Regions from separate parts of the Homo sapiens genome. Here all the other regions are linked to region 1. Evidence: fine-mapped expression QTL. A gene starts in region 1. Each other region holds a variant in brackets. All regions are shown on one strand. Distances are from middle to middle.

Region 1 (5,143 bases):
TGATTTCAGAGGAAGGGGCGCTCAGTTATTGAGTGCCTGCCACTGTGCAATCTTGGGCAGCAACTTAACCTGTTTGAGCCTCAGTCTACTCATGTCCTTTTGTGTCCATGTCATAGAACATGCAGCTAGTGTTAACAGTGCCTGGTACTGCACTGAATTTTTTTTTTTTTTTTTTTTTTTTTTTTGAGACGGAGTTTTGCTCTTGTCGCCCAGGCTGGAGTGCAACAGCACAATCTCAGCTAACTGCAACCTTTGCCTCCAGGGTTCAGGCGATTCTCCTGCCTCAGCCTCCCAAGTAGCTGGGATTACAGGCGCCCGCCACCACGCCCAGCTAATTTTTGTATTTTTAGTAGAGACAGGGTTTCACCATGTTGGTCAGGGTGGTCTTGAACTCCTGACCTCAGGTGATACACCCCCCTTGGCCTCCCAAGTGCTGGGATTACAGGCGTAAGCCACTGTGCCTGGCCTATGCAGCTCTCTTGAGAGTCCCACAACACCTTATGAGTGAGGTAATTAAAAAAAAATTTTTTTCTTTTAAATAAATAGAGATGAGGGGGAGTCTCACTGTGTTGCGCAGGTTGGTCTTGAACTCCTGGCCTCAAGCAATCCTCACACCTCGGCTTCCCAAAGTGCTGGGATTACAGGTGTGAGCCACCACACCCGGCCCAGTGAGATAATATTATCTCCATTTTATAGCTGAGGAAACCAAAGGGGGAAGTGACTTGTCCAAGGCCACGCAGTCCAAGAGTAACCCACATCTTCCTGTTGGCTATGATGCCCATACACGTTCTTTTTCCAGATGGAACCAAAAGAGAAAGTGGCAGGCTTTCAGGGATAAAGAGGCCCAGCTGGCCTGGTCCAAGGACTGGGGAAGTTTCCAGGTGGAGGGCATTGGGGCAATGTTCTGGCAGGGTCTGAAAGGGCGGGGAGGGGGCTGCATGGTTATAAGAGGCAGGAGCTGACAGGCGCCTGGACTCCAGTTATCTGTCTGCATTCTTTATTCTTTCCCTTTTGAATGAGGCTCTGCGACAGATTGTCAGCATCCCCCGGGCCCTGCATCTGAGACGCAAGTGAGGTTATGAAGAAGGGAAAGAATGGAAGAATGATGGGGCAGGGGACTCTAAGGAAAAAGGATTCATCTTTCTTCATGAATTCTCTCAAGAAATTAAGGGTGCCCCCAACACCAGTCTTCAGGAGGCCCTGCATTCTCCTATTTTTGTCCAGAAAACATTGATTTGTGCTGAGTGCCTCTTCCAGCTTTCCCTTTACAGCCCTGATCCCAGGAGAAGCCAGGTACTGGTCTTTTAAAAGTCTTGAGGCCTGAGAATTTGAAAATGAAACTCAGAAGAACAATGGGAATAATCAGAGGGCAGGGCCCCGTGGCTTGTTCAGCTCTGCCCCGGAAGAGCCTGGCATGCAGGAGGTGTTGGGGAATCAAGTCCCCAGGAATAGTCCTGACCTGCTTTGGAGCCAGCCCCCACTTTGTGAGATTGGACAGAAGCCAGGAGAAATCACTGCCTTCCCCAAGTACATGCTCCTGCCAAGGGGCCCAGGACCACCTGGGGCTCTGCCTGGGACCCTGAGACCCTCCTTGGGTAGCCTGAGAAAAGGCAATGGCTAGGTGGGGTGAAAGGTCAAAAAGTAAAAGCAGGCCCCGGGAAGCTGTGTACCTCAAATATATGGAAATCTGGGTTCCAGACCACACCTGGTTCCTGACAATCCCCACCTGCTGCCGGAAGCACTTTTCCAATCCCAACTTTTAAGTTGGGTTGCTTCAGGAGAGGAAGCCACATACTCCCCTAACATCTAGGACAGATGGGAGCCTAATTTAGAATCGGCAATTTTAGCCAACATTAGGGACATCTAATCCAAACTCTCCTCACCCACAGGAAACTGAGGCCCAAAGTGGGAGGAGAATTTGGCCAGGTCAAAGGTCAGGGGCAGGATCACAAATTCTCAACGCATCCTACTCTTGCTGGCCTTGTCACTTTTGATGGCCGTGGGGGCACCAACATCTACATATTAGTTGCTCTACAATTGCGATTTTCTTTATAAAGAAGTCAAGCCCTTCCTTTGCTTTAGAAACATCAGGTTTGCAAAGGAAGGCTGGGAACAAGCTGAGGCCTTGGCACCGCAAATCCTCCGCCTTATCGGCAAATTAATTCGGGACCCTGGGCGCAGTCAGCCTGGCATTGCAGCTTCTTAATGCCGCAGCAGAAGGCAGCTGGAGCGTCCGTTTTACAGGTGAGGTAGGTGGGCCTCCCTCCTCGCGTTTTCCGCGGTGGAAACTGAGGCTCTGAGAGGACCCAAGTCGTTCCTCCACGGACACCTGGAACCCATGGGCGGGGGCTGCCAGGGACCCAGGCGGGACCAGCTAGGTCTTGGGCTGCCCCCGGCCCAGAGGGCTCTTGGCGGGCAGGAGCCGCCCCCACGCCCGACCCCACTAAACAGGTCACCGAGAGGAGACCGGGTCCTCGCCCGCGGACCTCCCGGGCCGCAAGAGGCGCGATTCTGGAGTTGGAGGCTCCAGGGAACTCCAGAAATCCCAGAGAGATTCCGGGCCACCAACTCCCCCAGAAAGTTGGCTCGCGTCCACCCCCAAGACGGCCCTGAGGCGCAGGCCAAGATGGCACTGGGCGGGTGGCGCGCGGCGCCCAGCGGCCGCAGAGGAGAACCCCGTGCGACCCTGCCGCGAGGTGGGGGTCTTCGCGATCCCTACCCGGCGCGCGCCAGCCTCGACGCCGCCGCACGCGGGTGGGCACGCGCGCGCCCGGCCCCGCCCCCAGCGCCCCGCCCCCGCCGCGCGCCCCGCCCCGCCGCGCGCCCTCCCGCCCGCCCGCGCGCCGCGGCCCGGAGCCTCCCCATTGGCCGCGCGCCGTCACCTGACGCTCTGTTATTTCCTGTGTGTTGGGAGAATGGAGAGAAAAAACCCCGAGCCCAGCCGCTTTCGGCCCCTGCGAGGCGGCCGCGGCCTCCGCCAGGGGAGCCCGCCCTGAGGCGCGCCTGACCGGGGAGCGAGCGCGCGGGCCGGAGCGAGCCTCGAGGGGCCGCGGCCCCGGCCCGCCCCGCCGCCGGCCCGGGCGCCCGAGCTGGAGGCGGCGGAGCCACCCCCACCCCCACCCCGCGCAGCGCCGCCCGCCGTCGCCACCGCTCCCTCCCCGCCCGCCCCCGGCGGAGGCCGAGGGACTGGGCGGGGGGCTCCTGCAGGTAACCGCCTCCCGGGCCTGAGGGGCAGGGAGAGGGTTGGGCCTGAAGGACTGGGGCCGGGCCGGGGTGTCCGGCCTCGGGGGCTGGGAGCAGAGGTCCCGGCCGGACCCAACCTGGGAGTGCGGAGCCTCCTGGACTCCGAGTCAGGGCTTGGGGTGCTGAGGGGAGTGTTGCTGCCCGGCCCGACCCAAGAGTGCGGGCAGGGGCCCGGGCCAGGCCTGGCATCAGAGGGCTAAGGTGTCTTGGGCCGGCCCGGGGTTCCGGCGGGGCTTGGGTGCCGGTGCTGGCCCGAGGGTGCGGAGGGAAGGTCTACCTGCTGGTCGCGCGAGGCCTTGGGTGCAAAGGCGGCGGGTGTGAGCGGGCGGCGTCCGGGAGTCAGCGCCGCCTGCTTCGGGGCCCCTGGCAGCCCCGGGGGCACCGGCCGCGCTCGCCTCTTGGCTACGGGCTGGAGGCGAGGCCAGCGGGGCTGGGCCGGGATGTGGGCGGGAGGGCGCCGCGCTGGGGCGCCCAGGAGAGCAGGGGCCCGTTTACTGCCATGTGAACACCTGAAGCCATGTGGACGCGGCTGCTTCTCGCCTGTTGGGGGCGGAGGGCAGGTACCGGCGGGTTGGGCGCAAGGTCCCGGCGCAGGACACACTTCCTGTGTGGGGCGGCCTCTCCTCCCGCGCCGCGGGGAACAGGGCGGGGTGTGCAAGCCGGGGTCTCTGGGCGAGGGAGCGCTCGTTTGGGGACCTGAGGCTTTCGTCCCTTTTTCGGGGGAAAGTGGTGGTTTGAAGGAGCGTGGCCAATCGGGCCGATCCCTCTCAGGCTACGGCGGGAGGTGCACTGTCCTCTGGACGCCGGAATGGGAGTGGAATTTAGTGAGTTGGGGGGCGGTGCCGAGGAGCGGCCGTCTTCCTCTGCTTGTGGGTGGGATTATTGTCTGTTTTTGTGGTTGCGGATACCAATACGGTCTGCTGGTCTGTATTCAATCCTTTAGTTTGACCTTAGGGGTCAGGTCAAAATTAGGATTTCCCCCTTTTCCTTTTTGCTTTTTTTTCCTCGAAGATTAGATGTCTCTGGTAACTGCTGTAAAATGGATGGAATTTTCGAGCTATTATCTAACAGGCTGATCTTTGAATGATAATTGGACCCTTATGTTAACAGCCTCAGTGAAGAGTGAAGAGTTTTATACAGCATCTTCCGTGGGGTGGCAGTTAGGTGGATGGGGAAGCTACACTGAATTCCGACCTGGGAGACCAGGAATCTGCTTACAGCTTTGACGCCAAATAAACTGCAGCCCAGGGCAAGTTACTTTCCCTGGTAATTTTCTCATCTGTTAAGTGAGGACTCCCGGGTCAGACGGTACAGGGGTTTGTGGTTTTGCTTTTTTATCTCTCATTTTGTGCTCTGTTTTAGCCATAGGCAACTTTTCTGAGAAATGCAGACTGTACCTTAGCTGGCTTTTAAAAGCCTGTCTTTAAGCTTCCAGCCTCTGCCTTCAACAGAGCATAAAAGTTGGTCAGGGTACGCTCTTTTTTGAAATCCCACTTGCTGTTCTGTGCTTCAGATCAGAAAGTGTATTATTCTGACCTAGGTGGAATGCACCTTAACATATTTTTTGTCTTTGTGAAAGAAGTTATCAGAAAATGTTTCAGAGAATATTTGTCTACTTGGAAAATGTGTGGATAACATGTGATTGGGTCTGTGTATGTTGGCTCAGAGGAGTTCCAAGATCTTTCTACGCAGGGGATTTTGGAGGATCCAGATTTTATTAAAGTTCTTCAAAGGACATTTGACATTTGGCTAACTGTTGAAATTTCCAGCCAGTTTCAGCATTCTCAGAGTAGGGGGATGAAGTAGAATGCCATAACATCTCCTGTGAAATGGTATGCTAGTGGAATTAACTGTCACCTCAGGGTGCACTGATTATCTGCATCCCCAACTTTCTCCTTAC
Region 2 (5,143 bases), 53 kb after region 1:
ATCATTGTCAATGTCTTGAGGATTTAAAGGCAAAGAAGGAGAATAAGCAGAAAATCATGACAGAGGATGAAAAAATTAGCTGGGGCCAGGCACAATGGCTGAATTCTAGCACTTTGGGAGGTTGAAACAGCAGGATGGCTTGAGCCCAGGAGTTTGAGACCAGCCTGGACAGCACAGTGAGACTCTGTCTCTATTTTTAAGAAATTATAAAAATTAGCCATAGTCCCAATTATTTTTTAAAAATTAGCCAGGGGTCCCATGCCTGTGGTCCCAGCTACTTGGGAGGCTGAGGCAGGAGGATTGCCTGAGCTGGGAGTTGAGGCCGCAGTGAGCCTGTGGTCATGCCACTGCACTCCAGCCTGGGCAACAGAGTGAGACTCTCTTTCCAAAAAAGAGAATGGATTGGGAAGTGGGATGTTGTTGGACATATGGAGGAAGAAGGACAGAGAAAGCCAATGTTGGTTTTCTATAAGAGGGCAAGGTCATCAGCCCTCTAATAGGATGGGGAGAACAAGTCTGCAGCTGGTTATGAGTGAGTTTGTGAGGTCGGCACATGGACTCTGGAATGTTTAGGCACAGAGTTCTGGACCTCACTAATACACCTCCACAGCCCTTCTGAAACTGTTCAGAAAGTTAGGAATATAGGAGAAAAACAGGAAAGGGAGAGTCATTATGGATGGGAAGTACATCGGTAGGCCTCTTTTTTATTTATTTATTGAGACGGAATCTCGCTTTGTTGCCCAGGCTGGAGGGCAGTGGCGCGATCTCTGCTCACTGCAACCTCTGCCTCCGAGGCTCAGGCGATCCTCCTGCCTCAGCCCCCCGAGGTGCTGGGACTACAGGCACGCATCACCATGCCTGGCTAATTTTTGTATTTTTTATAAAGATAGGGTTTCGCCATGTTGCCCAGGCTGGTCTCGAACTCCTGAGCCCAAGTGATCTGCCCGCCTTGACCTCCCAAAGTTCAGGGATTACAGGGGTGAGCCACTGTGCCCAGCCTCTTTTTTAGAGTGTGTATGCAAGTTCCTTAGGTGACTTATTCCTTTGAGGTATCAGATTTTCCTTACTATTTGTATTCATTTAAACAAAGGAATTCAGGCACTTATTATTACTAATCACAGTGCTTTAAAACTGACTACACTGATGCTTTTTTTAAGATGATGGGATAAAATTGGAATTATCTCTATTAGCTTTTTTTTTTTTTTTTTTTTTTTTTTGAGACAGGGTTACTGTCACCCAGGGTGGAGCACATTGGCACATTCATAGCTCGTTGCAGCCTCGAACTCCTGAGTTCAAGCAATCGTCCTACCTCAGCCTCTTGAGCAGCTGGGACTGTAGGCACACCTCATGACACTGTGCATTTAAAATTTTTTTTAACCCAGGCTGGTCTTGAACTCCTGACCTCAAGCGATCCTCACACCTCAGCCTCCCAAAACACTGGGATTACAGGTGTGAGCCACCACACCCAGCCTATTACTTATTTTATAGCTCCAGGTTTACATTTTCTGTCGTTGGTATATGCTAGTTGGTTTTCTTAATTGGTTTACTTGGCATTCCTAAAAAAGATAAACCTGGGCAACCACCTTCTCCTACTCAGGTGCTTCATGTATACTAAGAATATTTAGCATGACTGGAACCCTGCAGGAGGTATTTGGCCTTGGATTTTTTTTTTTTCTTTTTCATAAAGTAGAACCATAACAATAGGGAAAGGGGTATCATACAGGACAGGGAATCTGCAGGGGAAGGCTGAGAACAGACCTAAGAAGGAGTCCTTCCTGTATCTGTTTTCCCTGTCTGGAGATAGGGCAGCCTCAGGCCTGATACCCTGATGTTTAAAGTGGCCTTTAGCTCTTGGTGGCTCCTATTTAGGAAGAATATGGAGCAAGTGGCAACATTGTTTATACACTCAGATCTTCAGAAGCCTGATTTTATTTCCAGAAGGATTAATTAAACAACATGTAACATAGCTTTTTATAGAGAATATCTCTTGAGAAGGCTTTTCATTAGTTTAAACTGCTAGCTTTAATGTTTTTGTTCAATTTAGCCCCCATTCAGCCTTGTTTTATCTAGAGAAGGCCACTGGCACTGAGGAGTAGAGCAGGAGCACATCACAAGGGGAAAAAATTAATACTCATGTAGACAGAATTGCTCTTGATAGTTCTAAGAATGATGGGGAGCGGGTGAAGAGCCAGCTGGAACAGTATGGAGGTCCTTAT[A/G]AGAGGGTGGCAGTGAAGGGACAGATTTATTGTGGGTGGCTACCCACTTTCAAGGCCAAACTGACAGGACAACTGGTATTTTTTACTGACCATGTGGAAGACCCTCTGGGCAATGTAATGTTAAAAACATGTCCTGCCCCCAGCCCTGCTGCCTAGGAGCTTTGTGAACTCTGCTTCTGTTTCCTCATCTGTAAAAGGAGCGTGCTAGTGTTGTGAGGATTAAATGAGTTAGTGTATGTGAAGTGCTGGAACAGTGTCAAGCAGCATCATCACCATTTGAATAGCTATTACCTACTGCCCTGCAGATTCACTGGAACAAAGCAACAGAGGCATTTTGAATAGGATGAGAAGTTTCCTTTAGATTCTGACATTATTTGCACATGAATGTTTAGCGATTGTTTTGGGTCACATGACTATATAATCAAGCTTAAGGAAGTAGACCCTTGTCTAGCTGTTTTAGACTTACGATATTTCAAGATATGGGTCAAGCTTTTAGAATTTGGGGTTACTGGCCATCTTCTGCTCTAATCAATATTTACTTTCTGAAGTCTTTCCTCAGTTCTCATGTGGACTCAAGCTGGGTCTTTCCCTTAGAACCGGACTCATGGGATTTTACAGGCAAGGTCTTCAGCATCCTCCAGCTCTGCTTTTAGGTTGATCATATTCTATTTTCACTTTCTATAATTCTCTCATGTCACTCCCACAGCACCATCTCTGAATATGTGAGTTCTAGCCTAGTTCTCTAAGGCCTAGTTCTTACACCATTTAATCATTCACACAGACTCCGGTGTGATGACGTGAGGATTACAGCAAGGAACAGTCAGTTTCTGCCCTTTAAGGAGTTTACATTTTAGTCAGAGGAGAGACAGACAGTAAACAAGTAGCATATATGTGTCTGTTTGGAGTAAGTATGGGGCCAGGCAGGGGATAAAACAGGGGAGGGAGTTACAGCCAGGGAAAAGGTGTGGAGCTGGCTGTTTTTACTAGAATGACCAGGGAATGAGTGACACTTGCCCAAAGACTGGAAGGAGAGCAAGCTATCTGGCTCTGGGAGAAGAACGTGCAGGTGAGAACAGAGTTCCTATGTAGATATGTGGTAGGCCTGTTCCAGGAACAAGGCAACTGTGGGGCTAGAGCAGAGAGTGATAGGGGAGGAGCTCAGAGAGGTCAAGGGGGTGGGAGCAGGGGCCTTTGAGACCAGTTTCCCAAAGAATGAGGTGGGAGCCACTCCAGGGATTGGAGAGGATAAATCTGACTTACCTTTAAAAAGGTTGTTGACTTTCCTGCAGGCAACTCCATTTTCAGCTCCCCTTCAGGGGAACTAGGAAACTAGCTTCATAAACCATTGTAACTAAACTAAACTGTCTATTACACCTCACTTTACCCTATATGTATTTTGGAACTTGTTTTTTTAAGTAATTGGTTCTAAAGTCACTTGGAGCAATTTGGCCTTGTCCCTTTCATCTCTGACTCTGAGGAGACAGGCCCAGGTGAAAGGGGAAAAAATCAGCTTGATTGATTAAGAGGGATTATAATAGGTAATACAAAGTGGTGGCTCAGTCAGATAACTTTGAAAGAGTCTGGGTCCTAGGCTTGATGAATTCCTATTTTCCTCTCTGTTTTTTGCTGTCCTCCAAGATGATTGCTTCTAATTCTTTCATAGTAATGGCCAGTAATAACTGTGAATTTAAAAAACTGGCAAATACAAATACCACATGGCGGGTAAAGGTGCTGGAACTTCTTGGAAACCTCCCAAAATAATCTGGAAGAATAGTCACTGCTATTCACTGGCTTAAGTCTAGCCCTTTGTACCTGGGAATTGAAGGAGAGTGGTGGAGAGAGGGGTGCTGTAGACACAGTCATATGCCAAGAAGAGGTTGACTCCAAAGTTTGTGTGGAACCCATATGGGCTGAGTGTCCTGGAGTCACCAGTCATCACAGGTAGTTGGCAATTATAGTAAAGCTGCAAAAATTTGCACTTGGACATAAGGAATTGGCTGCAGTTCTCTGGCCAGGTCTGTTTCTCAGTGTTGGGGAGTGGCGATCAGCAGCCAGTGTTAAAACCCGCAGTTCAGTGATCACCCTAATACATGAAAGCAGAGAAATGAAAGTAGTGGCTTATGCCTGTAGTCCCAAAACTTTGAGAGGCCGAGGCAGGAGGATCATTTGAAGCCAGGTGTTTGATGCTGCAGTGAACTACGACTGTGCCCCTGCACACTCCAGCCTGGGCAAGAGTGAGACCTTGTCTCAAAAAAAAAAAAAAAAAAAAAAAAAAAAGGATTTGGTTTTTCTTACCCCACACCCCCTCCCCCGCATAACTGGGAGGCTTATTGAAAAATTGCTGTTTTTCATTGACAGTAATAACACAGCCCCATATTTTAATCTGGTTGAGTTTGGGGGCTCATTTGTCTAATAAGGCATTATTAGATATATGAGACATACATGTTTTTGCTGTATTGGGTTTGTATGCACTCAGAGTGCTGCTTTTCATTCTACTACAGATTCTTGCCTCACTCTTTAGGCCATTTCTCTGCATATGTGCATTTTCAGAAGTGGATAGGATAAAATATAAAAGATGAAATTCAAGGTCAGGCGTGGTGGCTCATGCCTGTAATTCCAGCACTTTGGGAGGCCGAGGTGGGCGGATCACGAGGTCAGGAGTTCGAGACCAGCCTGGCCAGCACAGTGAAACCCTGTCTCTACTAAAAATACAAAAAATTAGCCGAGCCTGGTGGCCATGCGCCTGTAGTCCCAGCTACTCGGGAGGCTGAGGCAAGAGAATTGCTTGAACCCTGCAGGCAGAAGTTGCATTGAGCTGAGATCGTGCAATTGCACTCCAGCCTGGGTGACAGAGTGAGACTCTTGTCTCAAAAAACCAAAAAAAAAAAATAGAAATTCAAACCAGTCAGCTTCATCTGGGCCTCTGA
Region 3 (5,143 bases), 38 kb before region 1:
ACCCTAGAGTCTCACTACCCCTTCTAGGAAGGAGACCCTTTCAAGTCCCAGCTTCTGGGTAACCTATGTGCCTAGGAGAACAGGGCTGTCTTGACTATGCAGGGCTCTGGTGCAGGGGTCTGTGGAAGAGACGGGGAAATCAGAGTTGGGAGGACACGCGGCAGCTCCTGTGTGCCTGCAGGGTGCCCGGGATTGCACTTTTCTTGCTCTTTTCAGCCCTACAGCCCTGGGCTTGGGATGTTTTCATCCCCGTTTTGCAGGGGAGGGGACTGAGGCACCGCTAGCAGGTTTCCCAGCTGGGAGGGCCAGGCCTGGGGTCTGCATGATTCCCGTCCATACCCTTCAACTGCACCTTGCTCCTGTCCACAACATGGGTGTATGATGGTGGTGTGGCCCCTGCAGGGCACCAAGGTCAGCCCCTCTGGTTTGCAGCTGCTGAGAGAGGGCCCAATCCTCACAGCCTTTTGTCCTTTAGGAAAGGTGATCACTTCTAGAGGCTGATTTGATCCCCACACCACCCTGAGGCAAAAATGTCCTCGTTTCTCTTATGAGGAAACTGAGGCACAGGGGGTACCTACTCTATGACACACCATTCAGTGCCCCTCCTGCCCTTCCCCCCAGTCCCCTTGGGAAAGGCCTTGGGCCTGGGCCTGGTGCCAGGAGATGAAGCACTTAGGCAGCCCCCTTCTGCCTCCCTGACTGCAGGTCCCAGTCGCCAGCCCCGCAGGGACCCCTGCCCAGAGCCTGCCGCAGGTGGGAGGGCTGGCGTGCAGGTCCTTGAGGGGAGGCAGGCTGTGTGTGAGCCGCAGTTTGGGAGCCTGGCCACCCCCCTGTCCCCCGATTCCTGCACTCGTGTGCACCTTCTGAGGGGAGCAATCCCTGGATGCCACCGGGCCAGCCTTGGGCCAGCCATACGGTTCCTAAGTGTTCCTCCCTCCAGGCCGTATTTTCTTGGGTATTGATGAGCCAGTGTCATCCAAGATGCAGCCAGAAGCTGAGCTAAACTCAAGACAGATTGAGCCTCCGCCTCATCAATCTGCCTGCCGCTGCTCTGCTGGGGAGAAAAGAGGGCGGGCAGGCGGGCGGCCCAGGCTCTGCGGGGCCCTCCTGGGCTCTCAGAGTGGCCTCCTTAAACCACAGATCCACCTGTTGGGGCTGGCTTGTCACTCTCTGTCCAGGAATTTGCAACTTTCCAGACTCAGGCTCCTGGCCTGGCCACCCATTGCCTGGGGGCTAAAATCCACCCTGCTCATGTCCACCACAGGCCCTGTCTCCTTGCACTCCATTGCCACGCCAGTCCTCTCCACTGTATTCCAGCCATGCGGGCTGCCACTTCCACGAGCCATACTCCTTTCCTCCTCAGGGCTCTGCCTGGAAAGTTCTCTGCATGCCTTCCTCGTCTAGCCTGGCTGAAACACTGCTTCCTCTGAGCCCACGCGCCCCCCTGGCTGGATTCCTGTTATTGTCGACAGTCTCTTAGCACCACTTACTCCCCCCCGCACAACCCCCCAGAGAGCTGGCATCAATGGGTTATTTGTGAGAGTCTCTCACTGTCTGTCTCCCCCAGTGGGACATGGGCTCCGTAGCCCCAGGGACTGTCCATCTTGTTTCCACTAGATCCCCAGGACCTGGCACATAGTAGGCCCTTAGCAAGTGTTAGATGAATGTGCCAACATATGATTGTCATTGCCCTAATTAAACACTTTCCATTTCCTACTGCCCCTGGGATGAAATGTAAACTCCTCAGTGTGGCAGGCAGTTAAGGCCTGCAAGGTCCAACAGAAACAATTCCCTCTGCCTAGAGTTTGCTCCTCATTTTTTCCTCCTCATCTGCCCCTTTATAAACTCCTACACATCCTTCAAAGTCCACCTTTTCTGGGAAAACTTCATGGCCGCTCCGGGCAGTTGGCTGTTCTGCCCTCTGATTCAGCAGTGCCTGGGCACCAGGCCCTGTGCAGGGCACTGGAGAGACAGGGCTGGAAGGGGTAAGATTAGGGCCAGTGTGGAGTTAGCCTTGGACACAACCTCAGAGCATCCTCATGGCGATGATGACAGAAGCAGCTTCCCAGGCAGTTTGTGTTTTTCTTACTTCATCCTCACCACAACACTGTGAGGTGCTGGTGTCACCCCTATTCTGCAGACGAGGACAGCAAGGCTCAGAGAGGTGACGACTGGCAGCTGACATGAAAAGCCAGACAGGGCAGTCCAGAGGCACTTTGAGAGGAAAGAAGTCTGAGCTGAGACTGGAAGGAAGAATACAGGTTTTCTAGGCAGTGGGGAGTTGCAGGGGCGTTGCTGGCATTGGGGACAGTGTGGGCAGAGGTGTGGAGGGCCACGGGCACGGTTGGGGTGTGCAGCAGCCGTAGATGGGTAGGGAACTCCTGAATGTGGGGAGGGGGAAGCTCAGGAGCCTGGGGCAGCGGGGGCGAGGTGGGCAGAAGGGGAGCAGTAAAGGAGGAGGCTGGGGAGGTGGGTCAGGCCAGAGCGCGGAGGCCCAAGCTGGGGAGGGAGGCCCAGGGCACTGGGGCCTGGCGGGGTCTGGGTGACAGGTTGAGGATCCTGGCATGTGGCAGTTCACAGGCTCTGTAGTCCCCCGTCCTGCTTGTCTAGCCTACCCTGTTCCCTTAGCAGTGTCCCCTCCCAGCTGACAGGGCAGGCGGGGGCTCCTGGCATTTGTCCCCTGGTGGAGACCTTGGGGAGCACTTGCTGTCTGTAAATCTCTGGGGAAGAACATGAAAACAAGCCCAGTGACTGTCCCGCAGGGGTTGCCGGCTCCGCTCTTATCTGTCTCCTCATTTGCAGAGTGGGCATGGTCCACCGCCTCCTGCCCCTTCCAGGCCAGCCTCTCTGTGGCCGGCCGGCCATGCTTCTCTCAGCCTCCCCCGCCAGGGTGTCCTGTGAGGCCTCTGCACCAGGCGGCAGGCACCGGCGTGTTCCCTGGGTGTTCAGTGCCCCTCTGCTCTCAGTAAGCTCTACCCTCAGGGCCTGTGTGCAATCCCAGCCCGTTTCACCCACGCCTGGGTCTAGCAAGGCAGGTGCCACCTACCATTTCTGTAGAGATGGAAACTGAGGCTCAGAGATATTAAGTAATAGCATGTGATCACCTGGCCAG[C/T]GACAGGGAGCCAGGATTGAGACCTAGGGCCAGCTGCCTCTGTGGTCCTGCTCCTGGCCTAGCTGGGAGGATCTCCCTCCCCTGTCCTCACTTCATCTCTGCTCACCAAAATCCAGCCATCCCTCAAGGACTCACTTGAAGGGACCAGACTCACTTCTGGCCATGGGGGAGGCTCAGTGTTCCTTCTTTCATTCCCAGATACCTTGTGCCTGCCATGGCCCTGGGTACACTTCTAAGACCCTGGGGACGTTGTGCAGAGGTAAAGCCCAGACTCTGGGGTTGGATTCGTGGCTTCACCTAGGGTGCTTTGGGGCCTTCATTACCTCCTTGAGACTCTGTTCATTTGTAAAATGGGGGTGACATTAGTGCCTGCCCCCAAGGATAGGGAGGACTAAGTGAGTCTGTAAAGTGCTGAGAACACTACCTGGCACCTAGTAGCCCTCTGTCTGAGTCACATGTTACTGTCTCCACCCCTAGTGTTTGTGGGCCCCCTCCAGGAAGCGCCTCCAAACCTCTAGGCTGGTGAACATTTTCCTCCTCGAGCTCTCTCTCTCACTTGCTTCACGTCCAAGGGGTTGAGGGTCAGGTGGGTCCCCCGCCTCACTATAGGCACCTTGGGGGCCAGGGCTTCCGTCACCCCCATAGCCCCCTCTCCCCACCCCAGCTACCAGACCAGGGCTCCACGCATTATAGACACTTAATACATGTTTATGGAATTGAATTAACGATAAAACGAGATAATGGCCTGGAAGGAGCCTGTGCTGTTAGGAGGGAATGCATAGCGTAAAAACCAGGCATATATTTTTAAGCAGATTAATCTGGTCTTAACTCATTCTAATAGCCTGCGCCCCTATTGGCCAAGGCCATTATAATAACATATGGCCAGGGCTGTGGAGCTGGGAGATAGCAGTGCCTCGAAGTTCGTCTTCCGAAGGATACCACAGGAGGCCGGTGTCCAGCTGGCCGTCCAAGCTGGAGCTCAGAGAGTCTGAGGGACCTGACCGGAGTCACACCGCTGGGTAGGGGAGAGTGTGAAGAGACCGAGGCTCAGAGAGCCATGGGGCTTACCTGCAGACATGTAGCCCAAGGGGTGTGAGTGGCACAGGAGGCCTCGTCTTCCGCTGCGATGGTTGCATTATCTTGTGTTCCATGCCTGTGCTGGGTCAGAGCTTCTAGAGTCCCATCCCAGGGGACGCTTCACTTAGCTCCTCACCTCTGTGAGTCACCATCATCACAGTTGGGATGTCAAGTTTAGTGCTTCAGAATGTACATGCCCTTGGCCGGGAGAGAGATGAAGCTGGTATCAGTCATCCACACCTTAGTCTGAATTTACATCCCGTGAGGGCAGAGATCAGAGGGAGCTAGGGATCAGCGGGCTATTGGAAAGGAAGGAATAGTCTAGCTCCAGTCAGAGTAGGCGGGGCAGGGGGAATCAGAGCAGTGGCTCCAAAGTCACCCTTCCCAGCTGTCCGCCACTCTGGGCCTAAGTGCAGATGGAAGGCAGGGAATGAAGGAACTTGGCTTGCTTGGTGACCAGACAAGGTCCCACCCTCACATTCCGGGGCGAGGATGCTTTTAGAGAATGGCCCTGACCTGACCACTGTGCACTGCTGGTCAAATGCTGGTTGTAGCTACTGCAGCCGGCGTCCTCTGCTGCTGCCTCCCTTGGTGCATCTCAGGGGCAACCCCATGCTGTCGTCAGAGCCCACCATTGCCACCAGATGGCTCGGGTTGGTGCCCGGCCCTGGCTGCCCCTCCTCTCAGTCTTTTTTTTTTTTTTTTTTTTTTTTAAGACAGAGTCTTGCTCTGTCACCCAGGGTGGAGTGCAGTGGCATGATCTCGGGTCACTGCAACCTCCGCTCCCCAGGGTCAAGCGATTCTCGTGCCTCAGCATCCCGAGTAGCTGGGATTACAGGAGCGTGCCACCATGCCTGGCTAATTTTTGTATTTTTAGTAGAGACAGAGTTTCACCATGTTGTCCAGGCTGGTCTCGAACTCCTGACCTCAGGTGATCCGCCCACCTTGGCCTCC
Region 4 (5,143 bases), 28 kb before region 1:
CTGCCCATCTGCTCGGGTTTTGCCCGCTGGCAGTGAGAAAGGGAGTCCCCTGTTCCCCACGACAGACTTCAGGGAGCCAAGGGACGCAGCCAGGTCTCCCCAGCCTGCAAACATTGCTTCCCACCTTCCCTCCCTTGCTGCTCCCAGACCCCTCCCAAAGGTTTCCATTGCCCTGGAGCTACGCCAGGGAGCTCTGTCACCTTTGGCATGGCTCTTGCAGACACCTCCGCCTGTCGAATCACTTTGACTTAGGAAGCCCTGCTTTCTCCACCTCTGGGCCTGTGTGCATGCCACCTCCTTGGCTGGGAACAGTGTCCCCTCCTGTCCTCACCTTGCAGGTGGATTCCTCTTTGGAGGGACCAGGCCACGTGCCTTACCCAGTCCAGCCCCCACCATAGCCCCCTCACCCTGTGGTGGTGGTTGTGTGGTCACGTCTGTCTCCCCAAGGTGCACGCCTTGTCTGTCTGGCTCTCCTCTGTCTCCCTGGGGCGTGGCACAGAGTAAGTGCTCAGCAAACACTTGTTGAACCTATGAATGACTCCATCCTCGCCTTGTCCTGACAGCCCCATAGTGAAGATCTGAGCCGACCTCTCTCCTGCTTACACACCTCCAACGGCTCCCTAGTGCCCGCAAGATAAACTTCCGCATTTCTGAACCCCCACATCCACCTCCTCCCAGCCTTGCCTCTGGCTTCCAGCAGCCATTTACACCTCCACCCTGGTAAGTGCAGATGCCATGCTCTGCCCTAGGACCTTCCTTTGGGGAGACTCCCCTACCGCCACCCTACAGAGGTAGCTGCTTCCTCCTTGGAGGCCACACCTCTCTATCCTAAACACCCTCCCCTGTCCTGGCCTCTGAAGGTGGGGTTAAGGCTGACTCAGGGCCTTGGGGAGCAACAGAAGAATGAATGGTTGAATGCATGGTGCATTCTGCAGGTGGGGCTCGGGGGAGGGGAAGCTGCCCAGGTCTTGGCAGGGGGAGGAGGGAATGTCAGGAGTGGATAGGGAGGATGGGCTGAGCAGAGGCAAAGGCAGAGAGGCAGGCCTGGGTTAGTCATCAGGGTGATGAGTGGGGCTGAGTGTGTTGGCCCTGGGCTGGACGAGGGGTTTTCTGAGACCCTCCCCTGCCACTAACCTCCCTATACTTCCCTTTCCCAGCAGCCACAGCCCTGCCCCTTGGGCTGCTGACCGCAGGAGGCTTCAGGCATGGGAGTCCTGAGACCCCAAGTCTTAGCCCGCACCCCTTGAGCACTCACTGTGTGTGTCCCTGAACAAGTGCCTTTCCCTTCCTGGGCCTCAGTGCCCCCTGGGAAACAAAAGCGTTGCTGCCCACCATCAGAAGTGGGAGGTGACCGAGGTTCTGGGCCCCAGTCAGGACATGCTCTATTTGGCCCATGTGGCGCTTTTTTTCTTTTTTTTTTTAGTTTGAGCCAAAATTAAAACAGGGAAGTTTTCACATACAAATCTAGATTTCTGGCTTCTGTTGATATCTGGGCTGGCCCAGCCACGAGCTCTCACCGGCAGGAGTAGCTGGGTGGTCTTCACTCTTGGCCACCTGCCCAGCCTCCTAGCAGAGGCCCCAAAGCCCTGCCGCTCTCCTTGGGGGAACAGGTTTCAAAACCTGCCTCCCCTTACCCTGCCTTGAGATAAAACCGCATTCCCCTAACCCCCTGATATTCCAGACAATCTGCCTCGTTTTAAAATTCCTTCAGCAGCCCCAGGCCCAGCGGCTTCTACCAGCGAAGGAACGAAGGAACGAAAGGAACCAGGCTGCACGTGACTGCTTTGCGGCTGGGGAAGGCTTTGATGTTGCGGGTGATTTCAGCGCGCCCCTCCCCCTCCCCCTCCCCGCCCTTCCTTCCCCTCCTCTCCTTTCTTCCTCTGCTCCCTTTCCCCCTCCTCCTCCACCCGCTCCAAGCTTCCCTTCTACCCCTTTCTGTCTTTTCCCTCCTCCCTCCT[C/T]CCCTCCGCTTCCTTCTCCCCCTTCTCTCTTCCCCTCCCCCATCCCCACCACTTCCTCCTCCTCTGCTATTCTCTCTTACCGACCCCACTCCAGGTACCTGCTAATTGCACTTCCCTCCTGCTATTAATTACCTGACCTAGAGAGACCCCAGCCAGGTCACTCCTAGGAGGTCTTGAAGTGTTGGGGTGCGGGCAGGGGGGCCTGCGTTCGGGGAGAGGTACAGAGGTTGGAGAGCTGCTAGCTGGGACAGAAAGGCAAGAGGGACTGGTGACCAGTGGGACATGTGATTCCCCTCCACCCCCATTCCAGTTCCTCGGGGTTCCTGGGTGACCCACCACTGCCAGCATGTTCTGTTCATGAGGCCTTGAGGCCCCTTTGTCCTGGGGGAAATTGAGGCCCCAGGGCATTGGAGGTTGGCTAGGAGTGGGGAGGGGAGATGGGAGAGAGAGTCCATGGGGAGGGAGAGCAAGGTAAGGACTGTGTGAGAGGCAGATGGAGAGAGTGCCAGAGCAGGGGGCTGGATGTGGGGAGAGGGGCTGGGAAGGACCCTCAGTTCCTGCACCCCCAGCCAGACATGGCCTCACCTCCTTGCCGCCGTCCTCCCTGTGATTGTCCTCTGGGCTCACTGGTTGCTCTTGCTGTCTGCCTACCGCCCCCTTGCCCCCATCCTCCCGTGCCTTCTAAAGGCCAGAGAAGCCTGCAGGGCCAAGTCCAGATTTTTGGGGGTACCCCTCCAGGTCTCCGTTCCCCTCCACAGCAGGGGTCTGGGCAGGCGGTGGGTGTGGGAACCCTTGGAGCCCACCCATCACTGCCATGGTTATTCTCTGTTTCAGTTGGTCCACAGCTTCTAAGGCTGAGGACACACCAGTGGGTGCCTCCTCTGTGCTGGCCGTGGTGCCCGGCCCCTCCCTGCCCTGGGCCCTCTCGTCCTCCCCCGACTTGAGGCAGGGATGGCTCCTGGAGGCCGGGGCATTGGGCACGCTGGTTCTGGACTGTCCTGGGGAAGGCCTGGTGGGGAGGGGACTGCCTGCTGCTCTGGCCTCCAGGCTCTGGCCCATCCCTGCTGTGGTTTCTTTGGTCAAATTTGTCATCTAGGTGGGTGTCCCCACAAAAGGCAAGTGCAGAGATAGATGAAATTAGGGCAAACTTGCGACCATGCCAGCTGGTAGGCCTACTATGTGCCCAGCTATCCACAGGGGATGTGAGAGTGTTGCCTGTCCCACTGCCCCCTCCCCCAGCACCATCCGTGCAAAGATGAAGAGCCCAGGCTCAGGGAAGTGCCGAGACTTGACAGCAGGGCTGGGACCCAGGCCTTCTGCTTCGGGGTTCTGGGCAGGATGGTCTTCAGTGATAGCCAAGGAGGCTTCGGCCCTGGAGTCACCACCCCGGCATGTGCCTTGTTTTCCTCCTTGAAACCATAGTGACACTACTCCTGTCTCCCTAGAATAACTTCTCAGCAGCAGCTGCTGTCGCCTTCCACACCCAATGGGTGCCCCAACAACAGTCGGCCCTTTGGGTCAATCGCCCATGTGCCCACCTTCACCTACCCTCTCTCCAGGAGCACCTCCGCTGATGTCAAACCCTGCCTGTCCTCACTCATCCCCTGCTCCATCTCAGTTCTTGGATGAGTCGCTGGAAGCTGAGCCTTGGCTCTGGCTGAGGGCTCAGCCCTCCTCCGGGCTAGGGAATCTGGTGATAGGAGCACCAGGGCCCTGGGATTTGTGCCCTGATCAGCTGTGTGACTTTGGGCAAGTCACTGGCCCTCTCAGGACATGTGAGAAATGGAGACAGTGGTGATGCCTTCTCTCCCATGGGTTTGCTTTGAGTCTATTGAGAAGACAGATGCTGAAAAGCCCCACCACTTTGTACAGATGTGAGCAGCTGGGCTGAGCGGTCACCTTTGCACCCCCAGGCCCAGCCCTGAAACCAGCACATGTTCATCCTTGCCTGCTCTGCATGGGTGCCAGAGAGGAGCCCTGCTGTGAACCCTCCATGTGTTCCTTCCACCCTGGGTCTCATCTCCTCACCATCAGCCAGGAATGCTGGGCCCTGCCTGACAGGGGCCCCAGCTGGTGGGGGGATGCGACCCGAGGCCTTCTGTTGTGGTTTGTGGGGCAAGAGGGGAGTCCACACACATTTGTCTGAATTGTGTGGCTCAAGATTCTCTCTGGCCAGTATTTCCTAAGTCTGCCTGGTCTGGGTTGGGAGAAGAGGTTATGAAGGGGAAGCTCCTGGGGGCTGAGCTCGAGGCTCAGGGATCATGGGCTTTCATGGCTGACCCTGTGAACTGCCCCTCCCCAGTGTCTGGCCCCTCCAGCCCAGCCATGGGGCTCACCCAGCTGTGCCCTTGGAGGGTGCTCAGGAGGCAGTGGGGGATGGGAGAAGGTTGGGAGGGGCTCTGATGAGTTCTTGTTGCTGGTAAAAAGAAGGCACAACCAGTGTCCTTAGATTTACCGTCTAATGCAAATGAGGACCCACTCCTCATTCTTGCCGCTCCATGAATATGACCAACCCTTAAGCCAGCTAGGGAGTCTGACCTCTGCTCAGGCCTGGCAGGGGACAGGAAGTAGCTCCTCACCTGTTTTTCTTTTTTCAGCCCCCTGGTCAGTTCTACAGCGTAGCCCTCTCTGATCATGCCCATTTTCCAGATGGGCAGCCTCCTTGCCCAAGGTCGCCCAGCTGGGCCATCCATTGTGGGTATGGGCACTGAGGCCTGCCTGAACCAGTAGTGCATAGGGGTTGGGACACAGGTTCTGGGGCCCAAGTTTAAACTGACTTCTCCAGTTTGCTGTGTGGTTCTGGGTGGGTTACTGCACCTCTCTGAACTCAGTTGCCACATCTGTAGAGTGGGTTTAACTATAGCACCTTCCTTTGGAGAGATGTCAGTGCCGGAGTGCATGGAGCACCTGGCATGGAGTGAGTGCTTGCTGAGTGTCAGCTGTAGTTGCTGCTGTTTTTACTGTTATTTGACTTGAAAATCTCCCCCTGCTCCTCGTGCTGCTTTCTCATTCGCGAAAAGCTGAGCTGAATAAATGGCGACGGGGCCTCCTGGGTCCCCCTGCAGCGTGATTACATCCCTGAGCCCTGCTTGGGGCTGGCATCAGCAGGGCCCCCTTGTGGCTCGGGTGGTGAGGAGAAACTTGGCCCTGTCGCACTGCCTGGCTGGAGCCCTGTTTGGGGGTGG

What was found. PIP is the estimated chance that this variant, and not a neighbour inherited with it, causes the effect. A credible set is the group of variants that fine-mapping cannot tell apart.
Region 2: its variant is the best candidate, but not a certain one, in a credible set for the expression of TCF20 in whole blood (TOPMed, PIP 0.66).
Region 3: its variant is the best candidate, but not a certain one, in a credible set for the expression of TCF20 in whole blood (TOPMed, PIP 0.89).
Region 4: its variant is the best candidate, but not a certain one, in a credible set for the expression of TCF20 in whole blood (TOPMed, PIP 0.61).

The regions. Positions count from the first base shown.
Region 1 is chr22:42,268,403-42,273,545 of GRCh38, reverse strand. TCF20 (transcription factor 20) reads left to right here and starts at 2,893. Exons shown (of 6, transcript NM_001378418.1): 1 at 2,893-3,207. It also overlaps the pseudogene OGFRP1. RefSeq lists silencers at 2,800-2,959, 3,100-3,249, 3,310-3,369, 3,510-3,749 and an enhancer at 4,080-4,139.
Region 2 is chr22:42,215,430-42,220,572 of GRCh38, reverse strand. All of the region lies in intron 1 of TCF20 (transcription factor 20), which reads left to right. Among named protein-coding and RNA genes, the nearest start is that of TCF20, 53 kb to the left of the region's middle. RefSeq lists enhancers at 2,232-2,820, 5,091-5,143. The variant A/G (reference allele first, on the strand shown) is at 2,217.
Region 3 is chr22:42,306,798-42,311,940 of GRCh38, reverse strand. It overlaps a transcript of TCF20 not described here. Among named protein-coding and RNA genes, the nearest start is that of TCF20, 39 kb to the right of the region's middle. RefSeq lists an enhancer at 813-1,519. The variant C/T (reference allele first, on the strand shown) is at 3,113.
Region 4 is chr22:42,296,668-42,301,810 of GRCh38, reverse strand. It overlaps a transcript of TCF20 not described here. Among named protein-coding and RNA genes, the nearest start is that of TCF20, 29 kb to the right of the region's middle. RefSeq lists enhancers at 424-473, 484-593, 1-673, 674-1,352, 1,264-1,493 and 2 more. The variant C/T (reference allele first, on the strand shown) is at 1,959.